2 linked regions of the Homo sapiens genome follow. The protein of the gene in region 1 interacts with the protein of each later gene in a biochemical or structural test. Each region holds a gene or a part of one and is shown on either strand. Other genes may lie near its edges.

Region 1 (12,485 bases):
AGTTTTGAAAAGAAACATCTAGATACAGGAAGACATACCTACAGATCATTTTAACAATCCAGATGAAAAATGAGGGAGCTGATATTGGGCCAGTGGTGGTGGGGGTGGCCACTCCTTCCCTGTGGGGAGTGCACAAGGAGAATCTTGTACCTCCAAGCTCAGCAGAGTTTCCTGTTTCCTTCCTGTGTTCTGTCTTGGGCAGCAGCTGGTGGTAGGCCTGGGGCACAGGGACAGTGCAAACCTAGGGAACAATGCCCGGCTGGAAAACAACATATTGCCTGGAAGATAAATGGACTAAGGTGTGACCTCTGAGTGTAAGGGTTGCAGAAGCATAGGTGCCCTTTGCAGATGTGGGATTCAAGCTCTCTGTCCTTCATGGGGTGTGTGGCCATCCGCACTGGAGTAGGTCTCCACTGAGTGTCTTGAGTGCTTTCAGGATTCTGAGAATCACCCAAGAGGACCAAATACGTCCACTCCTCCTGATCCAAAATTTCATGGGAATATAATTTCATGGCATTAAAGACAAAGTATAGAGTCTTTTTTCTTTTTTTGAGACAGAATCTCGCTCTGTCACCCGAGCTGGAGTGCAGTGGTGTGATCTTGGCTCACTGCAAGCTCTGCCTCCTGGGTTCACGCCATTCTCCTGCCTCAGCCTCCCGAGTAGCTGGGACGACAGGCGCCTGCCACCACGCCCGGCTAATTTTTTGTATTTTTAGTAGAGACGGGGTTTCACCGTGTTATCCAGGATGGTCTGGATCTCCTGACCTCGTGATCCGCCCGCCTCGGCCTCCCAAAGTGCTGGGATTACAGGCCTGAGCCACCACGCCCGGCCTTAACTATAGTCTTATCCAGAGCTCTTATCTGCTTGCTCAAGGGGCATGGTCTTGAATAATTTCTGGGGAAAAGGTTTCCTGTGGAATGACCCTCTTCACGTTAGAAACCTAGGAAATCAAATTATGTCCCCCCATTTCCAGTCCTGGAACAGGATATCCAGAACCTCTTCAGTGGCCACCACTAAAAAGTGTCCTTCCCATCCTGGAAAGCTCTGAGTCACATAAATTGCTCTGTCAAATGCCTGGCCCAGAGCTCTTTGGAAGAGCTTTCCCCATTCCAAAGCCCTGAAACCGAGGGTTGACCCTGGCCGGGACTCTGTGTAAAGTGCAAGATCTCAGCAGCAGAGGAGGGAAAAGAGCGGAGGCCCAGGTCTCTCACTGGTGCCGCCAGGAAGTAAACACTCCATGGTGTAATTTGTGTGAAGAGAAAATTATCTCTAATTGGAGGGCTGGAATAAAAATATCTCCCATCTGTAAACAAAGTAGTTGGAGCATCCTGGAGGCACAGAACTGGAGCACCAGAGTGCTGCAGGTACCCTGTGGGCCACCCCACCCAGATCGTCTCAGCCCCAACCCACAAGCAGCGGGCGCTCCGGGACCTCACCGGAAGCCAGTGAAGGCGGCATACCTGTCCCTGAGGCTCATCAGTGTCCTCAGCCCCGAGGCACAGTCCAGAAAACAGCTTCTCACCTTCTCCCCAGGCCAGGGCAAATATTCAACAAGTCAGGTGAAGAGGGTAAAAAAATGCTGGTCTGTTTTATGTCATCACAGGGATCCCTCCTGGAAGGTGACTGGGGACTGCTGTTTACTGGCTATCTCAGACATCTTTTCTCAGACACCTTTTCTTTGGTGTCTGCAGGGGCACCTGCTTCTCCACATCCTCAAAGAAAGAATTGAGGCAGACACCCTGACACAGGCAGAGTGGGTGATATTCTTCATGGGGCCTGAAGTGAGAAATTCCCAGGAACATCAGCCCTAGGGAAGCGATTCTGTGTCAAGGGCTTTCCTTGTGTTATTGTCCACTGTTGGTTGTCCTGTTGTGTTTTAAGGTGCACCAGTAAAGAGCCCTTGGCTGATAGAGATACCACCAGGATACTTTAACTCCTGCCCTAGCATAAGGGTGTGACTCTCTTTAACTCCTGGCATGTATGATATTTCTACTGAAAGACACACACACACACACACACACACACACACACACGAACACCTAGCCTTCTTTTGGTGAAATGCAAAAGGTTTATTAAATAGCTGCTTATGAAAGCCTCTCTCTAGGAAGCCACTTGACCAAAATCTGCCATTGGTATATAAACTTTTTCAGCAAAGGAGAGAAATGTGCAAATAGATCGAACTGCGGAAGAACTTTTCTTCTTTTGCAGACCACAAGCGGCATATGTTATTGGAGAAGATGGAAGTTTTGTCTGCTACTGTTTCCTTAGAGGGAGGTGGGAGAAGGTTTTCCTATTTAAATAAAATTAAAGAAATACTTTGAAGGAAAAAGCAGGGGATAAGAGTTGAGATAAAATGTGGGATAACATAGTTGAAAATATTGTGAGGAAGATGGGACTTAAAGAGAGGAGAGATGGAGAAACAGAAACATACCCAGGTCTTTGAAAAGCCCTGAAGAAGAATGCTTTAAAGAAGGACTCTGAGGTCAGAGACTTCCATTAGTCAAAGGATCCCACTTCTCTCATGCGATGCGGGTTGACTTCAGATGATTGTTCAGGGCTAGAATAGCATAGTAAAGGAACAGAAGTCATGGATCACATTCCTTTTTTTCTTTTTTTTGAGACATGAGGCATCGGTCAATACATGTAAGGTGTACATTGGTTCTGTCTAGAAAGGTGGGACAACTATAAGTGGGTGGGGTTGGGATTTCAGGTCATAGGCAGATTCAAAGATTATTCTGATAGAAAGGAAGGTCTGGTCTGGCTCTGGGGCAGTGGCTCGCTTCTGTAATCCCAGCACATTGGGAAGTTGAGGCGGGCAAATTACTTGAGCCCAGAAGTTCAAGATCAGCTTGGGCAACATGGTGAGATCCCATCTCTACCAAAAAAAAAAGTAGAAAAATTAGCCAGCTATGGTGGCGCACACCTGTGGTCCCAGCTGCTCAGGAGGCTGAGGTGGGAGGATTGCTTGAGCCTGGAGGTTGAGGCTCAAGCATGAGCCACGATTGTGTGCCACTGCACTCCAGCCTGAGTGACAGGGTAAGACCCTGTCAAACAAACAAACAAACAAAAACAAAAAACAAAACAAAAAAAAAGCAAGCAAGAAAGGAACGTCTGTGTTAGAATAACGGTTGTGGAGACCAAGTTTTTATCATGCAGATGAAGCCTCCAGGTAACAGGCTTCAGAGAGAGAGAGAGAGTCTGTTGTATCAGTCTTTTTTGTTTGTTTGTTTTTAGACGGAGTCTCATTGTGTTGCCCAGGTGGAGTGCAGTGGCACGATCTCAGCTCACTGCAACCTCCGCCTTCTGGGTTCCAGCGATTCTCCTGCCTCAGTCTCCCAAGTAGTTGGAACTACAGGCATGCATCATGATGCCTGGTTAATTTTTTGTATTTTTAGTAGAGACAGGGTTTCACCATGTTGGCCAGGCTGGTCTCAAACTCCTGAACTCAGGTGATTCGCCCACCTTGGCCTCCTAAAGGGCCTGGATTACAGGCCTGAACCACCGCACCTGGCCCTATCAGTCTTAAGATCTGTTTTAATGTTGATGCTGGTCAGTTGGCCTGAATTCCAAAAGGGTGGAGGGTATAATAAGGCATATCCAACTCCCCGATCATGGCTTAAACTAGTTTTTCAGGTTAACTTTGCAGTGCCTTTGGCTGAGAGGAGGGGTCATTTCAGATTGTTGAGGGGCTTAGCTTTTTTTTTTTTTTGAGACAGAGTCTCACTCTGTCACCCAGGCTGAAGTGCAGTGGCGCAATCTTGGCTCACTGCAACTTCCACCTCCCGGGTTCAAGTGATTCTCCTGCCTCAGCCTCCCGAGTAGCTGGGATTACAGGCGCCTGCCACCATGCCTGGCAAATTTTTGTATTTTTAGTAGAGACAGGGTTTCACCATGTTGGTCAGGCTGGTCTCAAACTCCTGACCTCATGGTCTTCCCTCCTTGGTCTGCCAAAGTGCTGAGATTATAGGCGTGAGCCACCACGCCTGGCCAGGGCTTAGCATTTTATTGTTGGTTTACATTCAGTTCCCCGAGCTCTTTTAAGAAGTGCATGTCTCCCTAGTAAGCCACACCTTAGAAATAAGCATATTCAGATGAGTAATGCTGTGATGGAGGCAGAGCCTCCTCAGCCCTGCTCACGGAATGCTTCCAGGACTTTGCTGCTGGCCTTATTGAGCTCTGATTCCCTTCTGCACAGGGTCAGAGCTCTCCAGGGAACAATGAAACCCTAAGGAAGAGCAGACCACTTCACAGCCACGTGTGTCCTACCCCACTCTGCTGCATCCCTAGTTAGACTTCCATTCCAGGAACTGTCTCAGCTGTTGGTAATGACATGCCGACTCCATCTGCAGAGGAAAATCAATGTCTTACAATGAAGCACCTGCCATCCACTCTCCTAGGAACCTCTGCCCCTTATAGAATATTCATGCAGCCCTTTTTTGTAATCTCGGTCTGAGTTTCAAAAGATTCCCTAGCAGGAAGACCATTTAACAGATAGACCATTTTACAACGCAAACACTGAAAATTCCGCAGGAGAAAAGAGGCACTGGTTTTTGAAAACCGTGCTCTGTCCACAGTCAGACACCATCTCACATTTCCAAGTAACCCAAACAGTTCCTTCAGTTAGGTAAATATGCCTGGCCATGTGACCAGGAGCTAAAGGGAATAATAGGGAAAACAGAGGGCAGAAAAAAATGTCAGTGGGCATAAGACGAATTTTCTTCTTTTTAATTTCTCGATTTTGTGCTTGATAAAGGGAAAGAGGCCACCATTATAAAACAACTTTTACACACTTTTACTTGTGATTTAGTGCATGGTGACCTGGAACATAAAGAAGATTTATGAAAGGAAAGACAGAATCATAGTAGGTAATTGAGTTATTTTTTAATTTTTATTCTGTCTTTATAAGATTTTTGAGAAGGTAATCAATTAACATAAAGATCTGAGCAGTTATAAAGATTTACAAAGAAGATTATACAGTGATGGAAACTGAAGCATATTCTTGGCAACAATCTCAATCTATTTCACGTTTCCCGGCTTTTACATATATAAATTTGGTATACATAATATGTAAATATACTTCTATTTTGCATGAAAACTAAAAATACTAAAAAAGTAGCATGAGTATATGAAAAAGTTAAACATTAAAAATATTAGTTGGAAACTGGCTTATTTTACTAACAATTATATTCAGAATTCTGTTGCTAGACTGCTGTTTCTGGGAACATTGGAGGTGTACTTTCTATACTTGCTAAAATACAAGCTTTTCAAGTATTTTCCATAGTATTAAGTGAGACTTTAAATACTCTTGCTTTTTTAGATCTAATTTCTGCTTTAATTTATCCTTCTCTTCATTTTTCCTGTTTGTCCTCATCTTACCTGTTCTTCCCTGGTTTTACTATCTCCCAGTATTCAGAAATCAGAGCAAATAATTAGTCTGCTTTTCTGCAGAATAAACTATTGGGTATGCCATCATGCTTTTGATCTACCACATAAACAAATTATTTTAGCAAGACATCACTTTTATATGCTGTATAATGTATGTATTGCTTATGTTTTAAGCAGATTTCAGCTCTTTTCCTTCCATCAATTTGGAATTGGGGGCCCAAAAGATGTGAAGGCGATAATGCTTCCAAGATAACTGGGCTGCATCCTTATTTGTAAAATAAGAAATACTTTATTTCCCAAATTTTAAAGGAGTGTTCCTTCTCCGACCTGTTGTGATGGATTTATTCTATAGCTATGGAAATATACCCTGCTTCACTCTTGTACATACTTCTTTACTCTCCTCCCGCCAAGTTCATTGAAAGAGAACCCATGTGCCGGTCCAGAGCATCGCTGCATCCGTAAGCAGCTAGACCTCAGCTTCCTCTGTCACCATGGTGCCGGCTCGGCTGGGCCCGGCGGTCGCCATGGTAACTGGGGCGGGTCGCAGGGTCCTGGCAGGCTGGGCGCATGCGCGCGGGGACTACAAGCCGCGCCGCGCTGCCGCTGGCCCCTCAGCAACCCTCGACATGGCGCTGAGGCGGCCACCGCGACTCCGGCTCTGCGCTCGGCTGCCTGACTTCTTCCTGCTGCTGCTTTTCAGGGGTGAGTTTGCGCGTTTCCGCTGTTGGGAGACTAGGGTCTGGGGGCGACGGAAGCAGAGCGGGCCGAAGCTGCTGGAGCCGGTCCGGGCGAGGATAGCGGTCCTGGCTCCGAGGGCTCCCGGGGTCCCGGGCCGGAGGGGCGGCGCGCGCCCGCGTCCCCGCAGCCAGGGCTGGGACTCGGGCCTGGCTAGGGCGGGGGCCCTGGGACGCCCGGCAGTTGGACCGGGGCGGGGAGCTAATTTGGGATGGGGGGCCCGTCCCAGGCAGTGAGTCGGTCCCGGACAGCCGTCGGACCCCGGGGGCGGGCTCTTCTCGGGCGGGGTCCTGTGCTGGGCGGTGGGCTCATCCCCCGGGTGGGCTCCTCCCAGGCGGGGTCCTGTGCTGGGCGGTGGGCTCATCCCCCGGGTGGGCTCCTCCCAGGCGGGGTCCTGTGCTGGGCGGTGGGCTCGTCCCCGGGGTGGACCCCTCCCGGGCGGTGGGCACGGCCCTCTGGAGGGAGCGCGGCAGCTGCGGCGTGGGCGCTGGAACTTGCTGGAAGACCCTGCGCAGCAGTGCTGTGCTCTCCAGAAGGGACGGTGAGCGGGGGACGTAGCTGAGGACCGGCGAGGCAGAGCTCCGAGGCCTGGCGGGCTGCTTGGTCACAGCCCTCTGGGGATCTGCAGTTCATTTGACTCGACACAAAGGAACTGCTTTTCTTTTACAGAAATAAAATGGATATCAATCCAGTACCTTTTTTGTCTCTGGCCTGGCCGAGGAGACCACGCAGACTCTTATCCGGAAATAGCATTCGGGGCATTTGATCAAGACACACTAATAAACTTGATAGTTTTGTGCATTTTCTTTCCCTCTGTTTGGAATTCTCATTAGATCCACATTTTCCTGGACAGTTGTACAGAGGACTAAAATAGCTTTCCTTTAGTGAGCTTGTACTGTCTACTAGGCACTTTGGAGCCATTATCTCGTTTACTCCTTTCAGCAGCTCTGTGAGATAGGTTTCATTAATCCATTTTCAGAGTCAAGTCTAGTCTGCTTTCCAAGGCTGCATTCTAAGTAGTGAAGCCTCAACTTCATATTTACCTAAAGCAGGACACCACACTCTTCCCCTGGCAGCCATCCGCAGGTAACCAGACCAGGACCTTTTTCGGTTCTTAGATTATTTTATTGTTTGAATTGCCACTGTCATCCCATGATGTTTTCCAGAATATACAAATTAAAACACGGAGGGACTGTTTAGGAGTGAAGGTGGACAGATTTTGGAAAACAAAGCATTCCTGTGTTTGGTGCTTTATGCTAATGGGATGCTCGTGATGGGCTGTGACAAAAGATGAGTTTTAGCGTATAGATTATGTACGCTAAGGCAAAGTCTGTATACTTTGCCTGAAAGTGATTCCCAAAACCAAATGCTGTTGGGAGATAAGTGATCAAAGGCTAGCCAGGGGACAAGGGTGTCAGGAATGTCCAGCACCCGCTGTGTTGGTCACACTGACACTGTCCTATTCACAGCCTGGAACAACTCTCTATTGTTGAAAAGATCTGTTCACGTGAAAGTTTGCAGTTTTTGTTGCAGAAGCATTTGGCAGTTTAGCTCAGGAATGAATTTCAACTTGGTAGTTTGTTAATAAAACTAGAAAATGCAAAGAGCTTCACTTACCCTTAACCTCTGATTTCCTTCCCCTAAGGGACTAGTTTTGTGGCTTTTTTGCTGGTAGGGGCTGGGATTCACATGCAGAGCGTAGGAGGAAGAATCAAATTTTGCAAACTAGTTCTAATGACAAATAATCGAGGTAGTAGGATGTATGAATCCACTTTGAAGGCGTGTAGCTATCTTTTTTTTAGTAGGGGCTCTTTTTCCATTATTTGGTTTATGCTTTAAGCTACCCTAAAACTGTTCTTCCAGAAGTCATGACTACTGTGTCCTTTTTATTTTTTATGATTATTCTCAATTGCTATTACTATTTATTTTCATCTTAAAAATTTTGGTTCTTGATATAACAGCAAACATTTCTTTTGTGGTTACCCTTTGCCAGGCTCTGTTACAAGAATTTAATGTTTGCTAATTTATTTAATCTTGATAACTCTAAGAAGTCGTTACTATTGTTGTGCCCTTTTGTGGATGAGGGAACAGAAGTATGGAGAGATTCAGACCCTTGTCGGGAGTGTTATCCTGTGCGTTTTAAATGGGAAATCCTTCATTATTTGTGTTAATCCAATTTTTAGTTATTTGTATTATTCCATTTGACGGTGGAGTTCTTTTAATGGATCAGTTTAAACAGATTATCAAGTTTTCAACACTATGTGGTTTGTATATAAAATATTCTTTTGTTGACTCATGACAGGTGCAGTTCAGCTTTACAAATGTTATGCCACATGGCTTTTTTGAATGATTGTGTACTCATTAGTGTTAGGTTTCCAAATCTTTGATATTCTAGAGAGAAGTGCCTTATTTAGAATTAAAACAGCAACAGTTTTCATTCTTCAGATAAGACAACTTGTGTGCTGAAGCATATCAAAATCTGAAAATCAAAATTTCTGGGAAATTTTTGAAAAAATGTTTAATTCTTTTATTTGCATCTGTTTGGACTCCAGTAACGTTTTTTAGAATGGCATATTCTTTTATGTTCTAATTCTTAATTATCTGGCAGATATAATCATTGTCAGACTTGTGTGTATGTTTTAAAAAAAACAAAGAACACCTGTCTTGAAAGCATGCAGTACTTTATATCAGCTGCTCATTCCCACATGACTTGTTGATGGGCATTTGTTCTTCAGTGCTTCAGGCTAAGGAGACTGAATGGATAAGTACTAGAGATACTTAATCATAAGTAATTGCAGTATTACATTCAGGCAGAATTATCCACACAACCCCTAAGCTCCATGGAACTTGTTCTTAAACTCCATGGGGTGGGTTTAAATCAGTTCTTTTGAAAGCAACCAGACTTTCCTCAAGTATAAGATGGCCACATAATGTAACAGACGCAGCTATGGATTTAGTACATTCGACTAGCAGCTGTTAGAGATGTGGTATTAGCAAATTCCTTCTCCATAAATTCTTTGAATTTTTTAAAAGCACAAATGTAGTAAAAGAAAGGAAAATATGTGTGAATGAAGTTAGGATGTATGGAGTCTGCTGAAGAATACCCTAGTGGTGAAGTTGGATTTTTTTTTTTTTTTGAGACTGAGTTTCTGATGCAGTGGCATGAGCTCAGCTCACTGCAAAACTCACTGCAAAACTCCGCCTCCCAGGTTAAAGCCATTCTCCTGCCTCAGCCTCCCGAGTAGCTGAGATTACAGATGCGTGCCACCTTGCCTGACTAATTTTTTTATTGTTTTTAGTAGACATGGGGTTTCACCATGTTGGCCAGGCTGGTCTTGAACTCCTGACCTCAAGTGACCTGCCCGCCTTGGCCTACCAAAGTGCTGAGATTACAGGCGTGAGCCACCACGCCCAGCTGGATTCTCTTTTAAGATATGTTTATAGTTGGCCGGGTACAGTGGCTCACGCCAGCACTTTGGGAAGCCGAGGTGGGCGGATCACAAGATCAGGAGATCAAGAACATCTTGGCCAACATGATGAAGCCCTGTCTCTACTAAAAATACAAAAATTAGCCGGGCGTGCTGGTGCTTGCCTGTAGTCCCAGCTACTCTGGAGGCTGAGGCAGGAGAATCGCTTGAACCCGGGAGGTGGAGGTTGCAGTGAGCTGAGATTGCGCCACTGCACTCTTGCCTGGGGTACAAGAGTGAAACTCCGTCTTGGGGGAAAAAAAAAGATGTTTATAGTCAGGTGGTGTGAATGTTATGCTGTCAAAGTTGAATGCAAATTTCAGATCTTTGCATGTACTCTCAGAATTCTAGCAGTATATGCAAATAGCTTCACTGGAGTGTAAAGCGATCCCGAAAGAAAGTTTTGGTAAGCACATTCTTTTACACCTAGTTTAGCAAGGACAGTATCCACTGTGGTACTCTATATGGAGAGCTAAAGCCTTAATTGACTGTCTCTCTGCTTCTTGGCATGGCACACAGAAAGCTTCCTGAGAGTTAGCCCTTGTTTCTGATGTCCCAGGAATGCTGTAGTGTTTTGTGTTGGTGTGTTTCTTTTGGTTTTAAGTAGTATTTGTTATGTGTTATATATTACATTTCCCATGAGTAGTTAATACATACAGCAGAGGTTTCAGTGCTGCTTGTATAAAGACATCAAACTATTTAATAGAGTTAGGACTATATGAACATTTTTTCTTACATTATCTTTCATTTGCAGTTTCCCAAGGTTTCTATGGTTCAGCCTTCTTCCTGAAAATTATTGCCAAAATCAAATTCTGCCATAGTCATGCTATCTGCTATGTTTGACAACCTCAGCCCACAGTGATCCTTCCTATCTCTAAATAAGCTTAGATCATAGTCTCTAGTTCAGTTTAGTACAACACCCATTTATTGAGTATCTATGACGTGTCAGGCACTGTTCTGTGTGCTAGGGTTGCAAAATGGGTAAAACATCGCCAGTCCTTAAAGAGCCAGGGTAATTGACTCCGATTTACATTGGGCTTTAGTTGTTAGGTGTCAGTGCATTGTATTTTCTCAATGATAATAAACATTTTGTTGGTAACAGAGGCTGAATTTAATTTTTTTGTATCTTTCCAGAGGTGATTCTAGTAAATATTCAGTTTATCTCACTTTGTCACTTGAAAGTGAGTTAACATTTCTTAAACACTCTCTTTGTGTCGAGGCATTTTTAAAAAAATGTCTTATTTCTAGTGGCCCTAGGAACTTCTGGAAAAGTGTCAGTTTGTACTACAGTAGTTATTCTGGAAGAAAGAGAATGGTAATAATTTATTGACTTGGTTTAATTTCAGAATCTTTCTGCCATCTGCTTTTGTGCAGTTACAAGGTTAAGAAGGAGAAAAAGATGGAGAAATGCTTATGATATCATTTAAGTGACACAAGCTGCAGGTATACTAGTATATACTGTATGATTACGATTACACAAAACATCTATGCTTAGGGGAAAAAACAGGATGAGAATGAACCAGACTGTTGATAGGGGCTGTTTATGAGTGGAAGTGTTACAGCAAATTGTTTTCTGCTTTTCTTTGTTTTTGTTTTCCTGGTTGATTCTTGTATTCCTTTGTCTGTTTTCCAAATGTTCTTTGATGAGGATATTTTTTGTGTAATGAAAAAAGTTGCATCTTGGTTTGGCTTCCAGTAGATACAATAGTGGAATTTTAAATTTGGCACTAGTAATGGGAAAATATAATTTGTTTGTTTAATGTGATAGCATGTGGATTGTGCCTTTTTCTAGCTTCTTAATATCAGCCACATTGGATGAAGGAGTGGCTGACTGGAAGTTCAGTTGCTTGATAATGTATTGTTTGTGACTCATTTGAGAGATTAGTTGCCACTGACTTTTGGGTGGGGGAGTCAGCTGTGGTGTCCTCAGCAAATGGTTAGCTGGAAAACTGAGAGCTGCCGAGATTACCGGCCTCCCCCCTTCTTTTTGAACACACTGACAAAACGATCTGAGTAATGGCCTTTGTTCACCTGTTCAAAGCGAGCCAAAATTTATTGAGCACCTACTCTGTGGCAGCCCCTGGAAGATCTCTGTTTTCTTCCTCTTGAGTGATAAAAATACAGGGTGAAATTGACTTCTGTTGAAACTAGACTCTGAAAGATGTTTCCCGAAGCACTCTGTCAGCTGATGTGCCCCATCACTTCTTCCTGCCCAACATGGACTTCCCTGTTGGATGTCTTTCTCTAAGGAAAATATTTAATGTCTTTAGAATGAAGTGCAGCTGCCTGGAAGCTTAGAGACAATGCAACAAATCCAAAGACAGCTGCTTTTTTTTTTTTTTTTTTTGGCAGGGGTGGGGCATGTTTTTCCTTTAAAGCATCTCTGTCAGGGTACTGAAACTTAATCAGCCAATCCATATTTATTTGGTAGTCTCCATTTTCATGGCAGTAAAGCATTCCATGGGCAAAGCAGGAGAACTTAAGATAATGTCTTCCCTTTACCAGAGGGAACATATAGTTTAGTCAAATAACAGAGCAGCATTTGGGTAAATATTCTGTGGGTTTAGAAGTGAGAGCACTTACTCTCTCTGGGCTGACCTGGTAGAGGAGAATTTCAAAAAGGAGCTGGACTTGTACAGATAATTGACTGACTTAAGTATAGATTTGGGAGGGACAGCGGTGTGGATGGGAAAGTGGAGGAAATAATGTGGGCAAAGGCATGGACTTGGGAATGCACATGTTTTGTTTTGGGATGAGTGAGTTATAATGATTAATAACACCTGCCAATTACTGAAAACTATGTGATAAGCATTGTGCTTATTGCTCTATCTGGGGTCTTAGTGAGCTTGGGCTTCTATGACAGAATACCACAAACAGGGTGGCATAAATAAGACATT
Region 2 (12,490 bases), on another chromosome or scaffold:
GCCGGGCGCGGTGGCGGGCGCCTGTAGTCCCAGCTACTCGGGAGGCTGAGGCAGGAGAATGGCGTGAACCCGGGAAGCAGAGCTTGCAGTGAGTCGAGATTGCGCCACTGCAGTCCGCAGTCCGGCCTGGGCGACAGAGCGAGACTCCGTCTCAAAAAAAAAAAAAAAAAAAAAAAAAAAAAAAAAAAAAATTAGCCAGGCATGGTGGTGGGCACCTGTAGTTCCAGCTACTCGGGAGGCTGAGGCAGGAGAATGGGGGAACCTGGGAGGAAGAGGTTGCAGTGAGCCTACATCATGCCACTGCACTCCAGCCTGGGTAACAGAGCAAGACTCCGTCTGGAAAAAAAAAAAAAAGAAAAGAAAATTAGTTGATTGTAAATGCATGGGTTCATTTCTGAGCTCTGTATTCTGTTCCATTGGTCAATGTCTCTGTTTTTATGTCAGTGTCATGCTGTTTTGCTGAGTATACCTTTGTGGTGTATTTTGATGTCAGGTAGTGTGATACCTCTACCTTTGTTGTTTATGCTCAAGATTGTCTTGGATATTTGAGGTCTTTTGTGACTTCATATTAATTTTAGTATTGTTTTTTCTATTTCTGTAAGAAATGCCATTGGGATTTTGGTAGGAATTACATTGACTCTATCGATCACTTTGAATAGTATGGACCTTTAAAAATATTCTTTCAATCCATAATATGGGATATCTTTCCATTGATTTTTGTCTTAACTTTCTTTCGTCAATGTTTTATAGTTTTAGTGTGCATATTTTTCACCTTCTTGGTTAAATTAACTTGTAAGCATTTTATTTTTTGATGCCATTGTAAATAGGATTAATTTCTTTTTCAGATAGTTTGTTGTTAGTGTATAGAAACAAATAATTTTTGTATGTTCATTTTGTATTCCATGACTTTACTAAATTTGTTTATTAAATTTGATAACTTTTTCGTAGAGTATTTATAACAAGTTTCTTATATATAAGATCATGTCAATTGCAAACAGGGACAATTTTTTTTTCTTTATTTCTAACTTGAATGCATTTCTTATCTTTTTCTTGCCCAATTGCTCTGGCTAGGACTTTCAGTACTGTGTTGAAATAGAAGTGGTGAGTGTGGGCATCCTTGCCTTGTTCCTAATTTTAGTGGTAAAATCAAATTTTCACCACTGGGTATGATGTTAACTAGACACTTTTTTTAATGTTCTTTATCATGTTGATGTAATTTCCCTGTATTTCTAGTTTGTTGAGGGTTTTTAATCATGAGTGGCTATTCCTGTGGCCTGAATGTTTGTGTCCTCCCCAGATTCATATGTTGAAGCCTAATTCCTTGTGTGATGGTATTTGTAGATGGGACCTTTGGAAGGTGTTTAGGTCATGAGAGTGTGGCCATCATTAATAGGATTAGTGCCCTTAGACAAAAGCAAAATGATGGTTGCCTATGAACCAGAAAATAGGCTCTCACCAGATATTGAATCTGCTTGCACCTTGATTTTGGATGTCACAAGTCTTCAGAACTATGAGAAATAAATTTCTATTGCTTATAACCCATCCAGTCTATGTTATTTGTTATACCAAATAAGCTAAGACAGATGTTTAGTTTTATTAAATGCTTTCTTTTCTTATTGATAAGATCATGTTATTTTTATTCCTTATTCTGTTAATGTGGTGCATCACATTTATTGATTTGCATATGTTGAGCCATCCTTGCATGCCAGGAATAAAGCCCACATGGTCATGGCGTATGACCCTTTTGTGCTATTGAATTCAGTTTGCTAGTATTTTATTTAGGATTTTGGATCTATGTTCAATAGGGAAATTGGCATGTAGTGATCTTTTCTCATGGTGTGTTTGTTGGGATTTAGTGTCAGGATAGTGCTTGCCTCATACAATAAGTTTGGAAGTATTCCCTCCTCTTCAGTTTTTTGGATGAGTTTGAGAAGAATTCATATTAATTCTTATTTAAATGTTTGGTTGGTAGAATTTGCCTGAGAAGCCACCAGGTCCTGGGCTTTTCTTTGTTAGGAGGTCTTTGATTACTGATTCAATTTCCTTACTCATTATAGATCTGTTTAAACTTTCTATTGCCTTATGATTCAGGCTTGGTAGGTTGTATATTTCTAGGAATTTATCCATTCCTTCAAGGTTATCAAGTTTGTTAACATATAATTGTTCATAGTAGTCTCTTAATGATCCTTTTTATTGCTATGGCATCAGTTGTATGTTCTTTCATTTATAATTTTACTTATCTGTTGTTTCTGTTTTTTCTCCCTTTTTCCTTGGTCTACCTAAAAGCTTGTCAGTTCTTTTTTTTTTTTTTTTTGAGATGGAGTCTCACTCTGTTGCCCAGGCTGGAGTGCAGTGGCATGATCACAGCTCACTGCATTCTCCACCTCCCAGGTTCAAGTGATTCTCCTGCCTCAGGCTCCTGAGTAGCTGGCATTACAAGCACGTGCCACCACACCTGGCTGATTTTCGTATTTTTAGTAGAGACAGGGTTTCACCATGATGGCCAGGCTGGTTTTGAACTCCTCATCTCAGGTGATCCACTTGCCTCGACATCCCAAAGTGCTGGGATTGCAGGCGTGAGCCACTGCACCTGGCCAAAGCTTGTCAATTCTATCTTTTTGAAAAATCAACTTAATTTCATTGATTTTTTTCTATTCTCTATTTGATTTATTTTTCTGTAATCTTTATTATTTTCTTCCTTCTACTAACTTTAGGTTTAGTTTGTTCTTTTATTTCTCATTTCTTGAGGTGTAAAGTTAGGTTTTGTAATTGAAATTTGTCTTTTTGTTTTAAAATTAGGTGTTTATCCCGAACTTTCCTTTAGTACTGCTTTTGCTGCCTCCCATTAAGTTTGGTATATTGTGTTTTTGTTTTCATTTATCTCATGTTATTTTCTAATTTATTTTTTTATCCATTAGTTGTTCAATGGTGTATTGTTTAATTTTTACATATGTATGTTTTTTTCCAGTTTTTCTTCTGGTATTGTTTTTAGTTTCATTCCATTGTGGTTGGAAAAGATTCTTGATATAATTTAAATCATTTCAAATTTGTTAAGACTTGTTTTGTGACCTAACATGTGGTCTGTCCTGGGGAATGGTCCATGTGCACTTGAGAAGAATGTATATTCTGCAGTAGTTGGCTTGTGTATTTTGTATATGTCTGTTAAGTCCATTTGGTCCATTCTCCCTTGGGTTTTTTTTTTGTCTAGTTGTTCTATTTGCTATTGAAAGTAGGATTTTGAAGTTTCTTACTATTGAATTGCTGTCTATTTCTCCCTTCAGTTCTGTCATTATTAGCTTTATATATTCAGATGTCTGATGGGTGTGTATATAATTAATTGTTGTAACTCCTGGTGAAATGGCCATTTCATCATTATATAATATCATTATTTGTTTTTTGACTTAAAGTCTATTTTGTCTGATATTAGCATGTCATCCTGCTCTCTTTTGGTTACCATTTTAATGGAATAGCATTTTCTACTCCTTTACTTTTAGCCTATGTGTCAGTAAATACAAAGTGGGTATCTTGTAGATAGCATATAATTGGATTTTGTATTTTTATTAATTCTGCCACTCTGTTTTGAGAGTTTGCTTCTGTTTACATTTAAAGTAATTATTGATAGAGAAGGATTTACTACTGCCATTTTGTTAATTGTTTTCTGTTAGTCATGTAGGTCTTTTGTCCCTCTTTTCTTCTCTTGCTGTCTTCCTTTGTGTTTTATTGTTGTTAATTTTTGTATTAATATGCTTTCATTTTGTTCTCTTTTTGTACTTTTTTTTTTTTGAGACGGAATCTCATTCTGTCACCCAGGCTGGAGTGCAGTGGTGCGATCTCGGCTCACTGCAAGCTCCGCCTCCCGGGTTCAGGCCATTCTTCTGCCTCAGCCTCCCGAGTAGCTGGGACTACAGGTGCCCACCACCTCTCCTGGCTAATTTTTTGTATTTTTAATAGAGATGGGGTTTCACCACGTTAGCCAGGATGGTCTTGATCTCCTGACCTCGTGATCCGCCCACCTCAGCCTCCCAAAGTGCTGGGATTACAGGTGTAAGCCACGTGAGCCACCGCGTCTGACCCTTTTTTTGTGTATATAACTTCTAAAGGTATTTTCTTTGTGGTTTCCACAAAACATCTCATAATTATCATGGTCTATTTTAAGCTGATAACAACTGAACTTAAATCACATGCACTCTATACTTTTATTCCCCACTACACGTTTTACGTTATTGATTCACAATTTACAGTTATTTATATTGTGTATCCAGTAACATAATTTTAGCTATAGTTATTTTTAATATCTTTGTCTTATAACTTTTATACCATAATTAAAAGTGTCCAATTCACTTGCATTAAGGACATGACAAAATCACTTTTAAAATTTCTTTAAAATTTATTATTTGGCTGTCATTTTTTTCAATATTACTCTTGCACATACTTTAAAGAGTCAAAATAGTTCCAAAAAGCTCACTATTAAAAAACAACAATTTCCACATACACGATGGTTTTGGCTTCATTTCCCTTGCTCTTGAGGGAACCACTTTCAGCTCTTTCAATTCTCTATTTGTTCCAATTACATAATAATAATTTTGCTACTTTTTGATTTTTGTTTTACCACTGACTTCCCACCATGGAAGGTGGAGATTGATCTCTTTTTCAGTTTTCCTTTTGCCACATAGTAGCACTCTTTTACCCCCCATTCACGCCTCATGTTTATGTGATCATTTTGTTTAGATCAACATTCAGTGTTTGCATTATTCTGACTACGTAAATGAAATTCAGCTGAGCCAAATAATATACTTTTACTTTTCCCTGTATGCAGGGAAATGCAGGTAATTAATAGAAATTGGGGTTGGGCGTGGCGGCTCACACCTATAATCCTAGCACTTGAGAGGCTGACAGGGCAGAATCGCTTGAGCCCAGGAGTTCAAGACCAGCCTGGGCCACAAAGTGAGACCCCCGTTTTTATTTTAAAAGTTTTTTTAAAAAAGAAATTGTAGGTATCCTCTTGAGGTTGTGGTCTAAAGGTGAATAATTCCTTGATAAGTTCTAAGCTGTCCTAGTTCCTTGGTTAGTTGCAAGAGATGAGACTTGAGTAGAGCTTAGAGAACCTCTGTCTGGGCCATGCTGGATGACTGAGTTATACATCTCCTGTCTTTCCTACCCCTTTCTCTCTCCACACCTCTTTTTTACCCTCAGCGGATAGCAGGCTCCAAGCTCTCTCCCAGGCTCCAGTATTTTGGTCAGTCACTGAGTGGGGGCCAGGACCTCACAATGGATGGACTGGTAGACCTGACTGTAGGAGCCCAGGGGCACGTGCTGCTGCTCAGGTGAGAATGCCTTTTGGAGTCAACCGGACATTCTCCCTTGAAGGAATGTTTCCTGTTTGAAGGTCCCTGATGGTTTTCTGGTGTCCCTTTAGGTCCCAGCCAGTACTGAGAGTCAAGGCAATCATGGAGTTCAATCCCAGGGAAGTGGCAAGGAATGTATTTGAGTGTAATGATCAGGTGGTGAAAGGCAAGGAAGCCGGAGAGGTCAGAGTCTGCCTCCATGTCCAGAAGAGCACACGGGATCGGCTAAGAGAAGGTGAGGCTTGGTGGATGAGTCTCAAGAGGTTAAACGACCGAGGACATGAATGGGTGCTGCAATCCACTCTGCCCAGCCTTCTGGCTGTCCTGAACTGAGTTCTCACAGGCTCTGACAACCTTCTCCAAGCCTTACCTGAGTGAGCAGGCTATTGTCCTGCTGGGTAGGGAAGTCCAGTGGACCTCCCTAAAGAGGTGAGCATGTGGCACTTCCTTACTCACTCAGTTCTCCAGAGAACTGAAGGCCCCATGCCTGTGAACAAACTATGTTTTTGTTTTTTAATAAACGGAGAGAAAACCTATTTGGGGAGATTGAATTGATGAAGCTAAACAGAGATTTACAAAGCACTCACATACGCATTTTATCACCAGTGACTTCTTCCCTTGTTCCTATTCTCAAAGAGTAGAACTGTGTTTGGGGTGGGAGAATAGTAATGACAATACTAAGAATAACTGTCTCTAGTAGTGACAGCACTAGGAATAACTGTCTCTAGTAATGACAGTACTAGAAAGAATTGTACCCTCTTTAAAAGTAAAATTATTAGCTAGGCATGATGGCATGTTCTTGTAGTCTCAGCTACTTGAGAGGCTGAGGTGGGAGGGGAGGATCACTTGAGCCCAGGAGGTTGAGGCCAGCCTGGGCAACATAGCAAGACCCATCCCTAAAAAATGATTACCTTTCTAGGAACAGTTTTCCTGTGCTGAGGAGATAGCATTCCAGATATGAGAGCAGCCAGCATGGCTAGAAATTAAGAGCAAAATGTTAGAGAGTAGGGAATTGAAGAAGAGGTACCCTTAAACCTACATAGAAGTCCCCCTCTACTCTTTGGCTGACTCTTAAGACACGAATGCCTAGGTCAGTACTCCAAGACACCCAGTAGAAAACAGCAACTGAAAAGCCAAAGAGCTGATCAGAGAATTCAGCAGCTCCTCAGTGCTGGGGAGACAGAGATTTGAGAGGCCTTGGTAAATACCTTGGTCTTTCCATTGAGACAACTGACTAGCAACCAAGAGAAACAATATACAATAGAAATAGACCCACAGGTGATTCAGAAATTAGAGTGATTGGATAGGAATTTTTAAAAGGTAACTATAATTAATATCTTCAAGAAAAAAGGGAAAGGATGAGAACTTCAGCAAAAACCTGGAATTCATAAAATAGAGTCAAATGGAAACTCTAGAACCAAAAATCGCACTGACTGAAATGAAGAATTCAGTAAATAGATTTATAGCAGATTAGAAGCAGAACAGAGAATTAGTGAACAAGAAGACAGTCATTTGAAAGTATCTGGATAAATATGCGATAAAAAGAAAGAAAAATACAGAAAAACACCATAAGAGATGTGTGGGATATGGTGAAAGATCTAACAAACATGTAATTGGAATTACAGAAAGTGGTGGTGGGGGAGGAGAGAGAGAGAGAGAGAAAGAAAATAGGAAAGATGGAATAGGAAAGACAGAATAGGAAAGATGGAATAGGATGGAATAGGAAAGATGCAGTAGTTAAAGAATTTCCCCAAACTGGCCAGTCACGGTGGCTCACGCCTGTAATCCCAGCACTTTGGGAGGCCGAGGCAGGTGGATCACCTGAGGTCAGGAGTTTGAGACCAGCCTGGCCAACATGGTGAAACCCCATCTCTACTAAAAATACAAAATTAGCAGGTGTGGTGGTATGCGTCTGTAATCCCAGCTACTCAGGAGGCTGAAGCAGGAGAATTGAACCTGGGAGGCGGATGTTGCAGTGAGCTGAGATCGCCCCATTGCACTCCAGTCTGGGTGACAAGAGCGAAACTCCATTTCAAAAAAAAAAAAAAAAATTCCCCAAACTGATGAAAGACATCAAGATTCTTTACAAAATCAAAGCAGGATAAATATGAAGGACATTATATCATTGTACGTTATAATCAAACTGCTGAAGACCAAAGACAAAGAGAAAAAAATTTAAAGTAGTCAGAAAAATACAATAAATTTTTTAGTGAGTGACAGAATAGCTACCATTTATTGAGCACTTATTGTATAAAAGACACTGTGCTAAATACTTGATAAGCACTATTTCATTTCCTTTTTACCATTGGGAGGGTATCATTATTATCCTCACTTTAAAAATAAAGAATGGAGGCCAGGCGCAGTGGCTCATGCCTTTAATCCTAGCGCTTTGGGAGGCTGAGGCAGGTGGATTACTTTGAGACCAGCCTGGCTAACATGGTGAAACCCCATCTCTACTAAAAATACAAAAATTAGCACGGCGTGGTGGCATGTGCCTATAATCCCAGCTACTTGGGAGGCTGAGGCAGGAGAAACGCTTGAACCTGGGAGGCAGAGGTTGCAGTGAGCTGAGATGGCACCACTGCACTCCAGCCTGGGCAAGAGAGTGAGATTCTGTCTCAAAAAAGAAAATAAAAAATAAAAAGAAAGGAAGGAAGGAAGAAGGGAAGGAAGGAAAGGAAGGAAAGTAGGAAAGGAAGGAAAGGAAGAAAAGGAAGGAAGGAAGAAGGGAAGGAAGGAAAGGAAGGAAAGTAGGAAAGGAAGGAAAGGAAGAAAAGGAAGGAAGGAAAGGAAAGGAAAAAAGGAAGGAAGGAAGGAAAGGGAGGAAGAGAGCGAGGAAAGAAAGAAAGAAAGAAAAAGGAAGGAAGGAAGGAAAGAAGACTCAGAGAAGTCAGATAACATACCCCAAGTCACACAGCTGAGAAGCAGAGGAGCTGGGCCTTGAACTCCCATCTGCCGGGTTCCGAGGCTCAGGCCCCTCACTGCTGTGCCACCCTGTCCCTTCAGGACAGATCCAGAGTGTTGTGACTTATGACCTGGCTCTGGACTCCGGCCGCCCACATTCCCGCGCCGTCTTCAATGAGACAAAGAACAGCACACGCAGACAGACACAGGTCTTGGGGCTGACCCAGACTTGTGAGACCCTGAAACTACAGTTGCCGGTGAGCAGGCTAGTGGCCAGACCCCTGGGTCTTCCAAGCATGGAGTGGGCTTGGGGAGCTGAGGAGGGCAGATCCCCAAATCCCGGCTATCTCTTAGAATTGCATCGAGGACCCAGTGAGCCCCATTGTGCTGCGCCTGAACTTCTCTCTGGTGGGAACGCCATTGTCTGCTTTCGGGAACCTCCGGCCAGTGCTGGCGGAGGATGCTCAGAGACTCTTCACAGCCTTGGTGAGTCCAGAGTTGGGGTCCTGCAGGGGTGTGGAAGAGACCAGAGACCAAGGTGGTTGAAACTCATTTTATTTGATTGCATCTAATTTTACTTCAACATTTGATTTTATTGTTTAATTTCACAATACTTGGTTATTTTCTTTCCTTTCATTTGATCATATTTATTTTTTAAAAGTTTCCCTTTGAGAAGAATTGTGGCAATGACAACATCTGCCAGGATGACCTCAGCATCACCTTCAGTTTCATGAGGTGAGTTTCCTTTCCTCCTCACCTCCTCCAGAGAAGGACCCGTACCATGACCCGCTCTTTTCTCCTCCTGGCCCCCAAGGGAGCCGGGTGTTCCTGGGCTATAAGGTCCGGTGTGGCTGCCCCTCCACTGTTGTCTCTTCATCAAGTGTCTGCGTCTCTGTTCTGCTGGAGCAGGCTTGCCACAGGGAAGCCCAGCGCCCCATCCCCCGGCCTGTCTTCTTCTTCCCACAGCCTGGACTGCCTCGTGGTGGGTGGGCCCCGGGAGTTCAACGTGACAGTGACTGTGAGAAATGATGGTGAGGACTCCTACAGGACACAGGTCACCTTCTTCTTCCCGCTTGACCTGTCCTACCGGAAGGTGTCCACGCTCCAGGTAGCCACATCCTTCTCAGGCTCTATCTGACCTTTGCTTCCCCATCCTCACGGCCGGAGGTGGATATCACCGCCTTTGCCTCCCCTGCCTTCCAGAACCAGCGCTCACAGCGATCCTGGCGCCTGGCCTGTGAGTCTGCCTCCTCCACCGAAGTGTCTGGGGCCTTGAAGAGCACCAGCTGCAGCATAAACCACCCCATCTTCCCGGAAAACTCAGAGGTCAGAACTCCTGGCTCCTCCCCTCCTTTTCTCTTTGATTTCTTTGGGGATTCTTTTCTTCTTCTTCTCTTCTTTAGTAGTGGTTCCTTTTTGTACAAAACAGCTTTATTGAGATATAATTCATATACCATCCAATTCACCTATTTAAAGCATACATTTCAAGCCCGGCACAGTGGCTCATGCTTGTAATCATAGCACTTTAGGAGGTCGAGGCAGGAGGATCGCTTGAGCCCGAGAGTTTGAAACCAGCCTGGGTGACACGGCGAGACCCTGTCTCTACAAAAAATGTAAAAATTAGCTGGGCGTGGTGGTGCACACCTGTAGTCCCAGCTACTCGGGAGGCTAGGGTGGGAGGATCGTCTGGGCCTGGGAGGTTGAGGCTGCAGTGAGCTATGATCACACCACTGCACTCTAGCCTAGGCGACAGAGTGAGACCCTGTCTTGAAAATAAATAAAATGAAATAAAATAAAATAAAGTATACAGTTCAGTGGCTTTGAGTGAATTCATAGGGTCTTGCATCCGTCATCATGATCCATTTTGGAACATCTTCATTACCTCACAAAGAGCTTCTGTTCCCGTTGGCCCTCAGCCCCAGTCCTCCCATATCCCCCAGCCCTATGCAACCACTAATCTACTTTGTCTATAGATTTGCCTATTCTGGACATTTCATATAAATGAAATAATCCCGTATGTGATCCTTTCCCTAGCATAATATTAAGCAAGGACTTAGCAAGGATCATTCATGTCGTAGTATATGTCAGTACCTCATTGCTTTAAAAAAATTGTTTTTAAATTTTTTATATATATTTTTGAGATGGAGTTTCACTTCGTTGCCCAGGCTGGAGTGCAGTGGTGCAATCTTGGCTCACTGCAACCTCTGCCTCCCAGGTTTAAGCAATTCTTGTGCCTCACTCTCCCAAGTAGCTGGGGTTACATGCGCCCGCCACCACACCCAGCTAATTTTTGTATTTTTAGTAGATACAGGGTTTTGCCATGTTGGCCAGGCTGGTCTCGAACTCCTGACCTCAGGTGATCCACCTGCCTCAGCCTCCCAAAGTGCTGGGATTACAGGTGTGAGCCACCGCACCTGGCCTTCATTGCTTTTTATTTGGTGAACAATATCCTGTTGCATGGATGGGCCATATTTCATGTCTCCATTAATCAGATGACGGGCATTTGGGTTATTTTTTCTCTCATATTTCTGTCATTGTCTCTCCTTTCTCTCACTCCAGGTCACCTTTAATATCACGTTTGATGTAGACTCTAAGGCTTCCCTTGGAAACAAACTGCTCCTCAAGGCCAATGTGACCAGGTGCTCTCTGCTACCAGGCTTCTGCAGGCAGTTGCCCGTCTGACGCCCCAGCCCCTGGCCCATGGTGGGCCTTTGCCCTTTGCCCACTGGTTCTCCCTTCAACTCATTTGTTCACTCAGCAAACACTCACTGACCACCCACCACGTGCTGGGCCTTGTGCTGAGTGCTGGTGGGATGGTGGTGGATCAGACGATAGTGGTTCCTGCCCTCTCGGAGATGATAATTTAGTGGCAAAGACAGACAAGAAATCTAGCCATTAATCTTGCATCCATCTCAAATCCAGTATGAGATGCAAGATTAGATGGGGGACGGCCAGTGTTCTTGGGAGTTTGGTGTTCAGAGAAGATTCCTAAAGAAAATATATTTAGGAGCTGGGCGTGCTGGCTCAAGCCTGTAATCCCAGCACTTTGGGAGGCTGAGGCAAAACAATTGCTCGAACCCAGGAGTTCAAAATCAGCCTGGACAACATATCAATACCCTGTTTCTACAAAAAAAAAAAAATACAAAAATTAGCCAGGCATGGTGGTGCATGCCTGTAATCCCAGCTACTCAGGAGGCTGAGGCACAAGAATTGCTTGAGCCTGGAAGATTGAGGCTGCAGTGAGCTGAGATGGTGCCACTGCACTCCAGCCTGGGCAATAGAGTGAGACCCAGTGTCAAAATAATAATAATAATAATAATAATAAAAAATAAAAGGGAAAAAAAGAAAATATATTTAGACAAAGCAAAGGCATGAACTGAGGGCGGGCATGAAGACAGAAGGCAGGAAGCAGATACCAGGGACGGGAAGATCAGGGTGTGTTTAAGAGTGGCCTCAGCATGAAATGCAGGGCTGAAGGAGTTGGTGGTGGTTAGATACAGGCCATGTCCCAAAATGACTGACGGGTGTTGTTTGGGATTTGCAGTTTCGCCTCTGGGAGTGACATAATCATATTTGCATGTTAGAACGATCACTCTTCAGGAGGGCTGGCGATTGGGGTGGGAGCAGGTGTGAATTCAGGGGACCAGTTAGAAGAAGGTGGTTGCAGACATCCAGCTGGAGAGGGATGGGCCTGGGCTAGGCGGGGGCAGGGGTTGGAGAACAGTGGGGTTTCAGATGCAGAGATAACAGAACTTGGTGGCTGATTGGAGGCAGGGAGTGAGGGAGAGGGAGGAGCAAAGACTAACTGTCAGTTCTCAAGAGCCGGCTGGAGCTCTTTCTTTCCCTCCAGTGAGAACAACATGCCCAGAACCAACAAAACCGAATTCCAACTGGAGCTGCCGGTGAAATATGCTGTCTACATGGTGGTCACCAGGTGCTGGCTTCCAGGACTTTAGCTGAGCCTCCACTTCTGGGCTGGACATGGCTGATTGTGCATCTGTGTGCATGAGTCTGTGCATGTGTGTGTGTGTGAGAGTCTGAGGATCTCTGTGCATGTATGTGTGCATGGGTGTGTATTTGGGCATGGGTGTGTGAGTGTGATGATCTATGTGCATGTTTGTGTGCATGGACGTGTATTTGTGCATGTGTGTGTCTGAGGATGTATCTGCATGTGTGTATGTGTGCATGGGCGTGTATTTGTGGATGTGAGTGTGATCTATGTGTGTGTGCGTGCATGGGTG

Evidence for each region.
Region 2: the proteins of JAM3 (region 1) and ITGAM form a complex in vitro, tested with the Homo sapiens proteins (one study listed by BioGRID).

Annotation. Positions count from the first base shown.
Region 1 is NC_000011.10:134,063,072-134,075,556, forward strand, and holds the start of JAM3 (junctional adhesion molecule C isoform 1 precursor), read left to right. Parts: upstream 1-6,000; 5' UTR 6,001-6,012; coding exon 6,013-6,088; intron 6,089-12,485. UniProt on the Homo sapiens protein: Junctional adhesion protein that mediates heterotypic cell-cell interactions with its cognate receptor JAM2 to regulate different cellular processes. Plays a role in homing and mobilization of hematopoietic stem and progenitor cells within the bone marrow.
Region 2 is NC_000016.10:31,316,048-31,328,537, forward strand, and holds part of ITGAM (integrin alpha-M isoform 2 precursor), read left to right. Parts: intron 1-5,193; coding exon 5,194-5,324; coding exon of another isoform or gene 5,325-5,328; intron 5,329-5,416; coding exon 5,417-5,580; intron 5,581-8,351; coding exon 8,352-8,506; intron 8,507-8,603; coding exon 8,604-8,735; intron 8,736-8,910; coding exon 8,911-8,984; intron 8,985-9,215; coding exon 9,216-9,357; intron 9,358-9,452; coding exon 9,453-9,575; intron 9,576-10,808; coding exon 10,809-10,888; coding exon of another isoform or gene 10,889-10,931; exon of another isoform or gene 10,932-10,952; intron 10,953-12,099; coding exon 12,100-12,183; intron 12,184-12,490.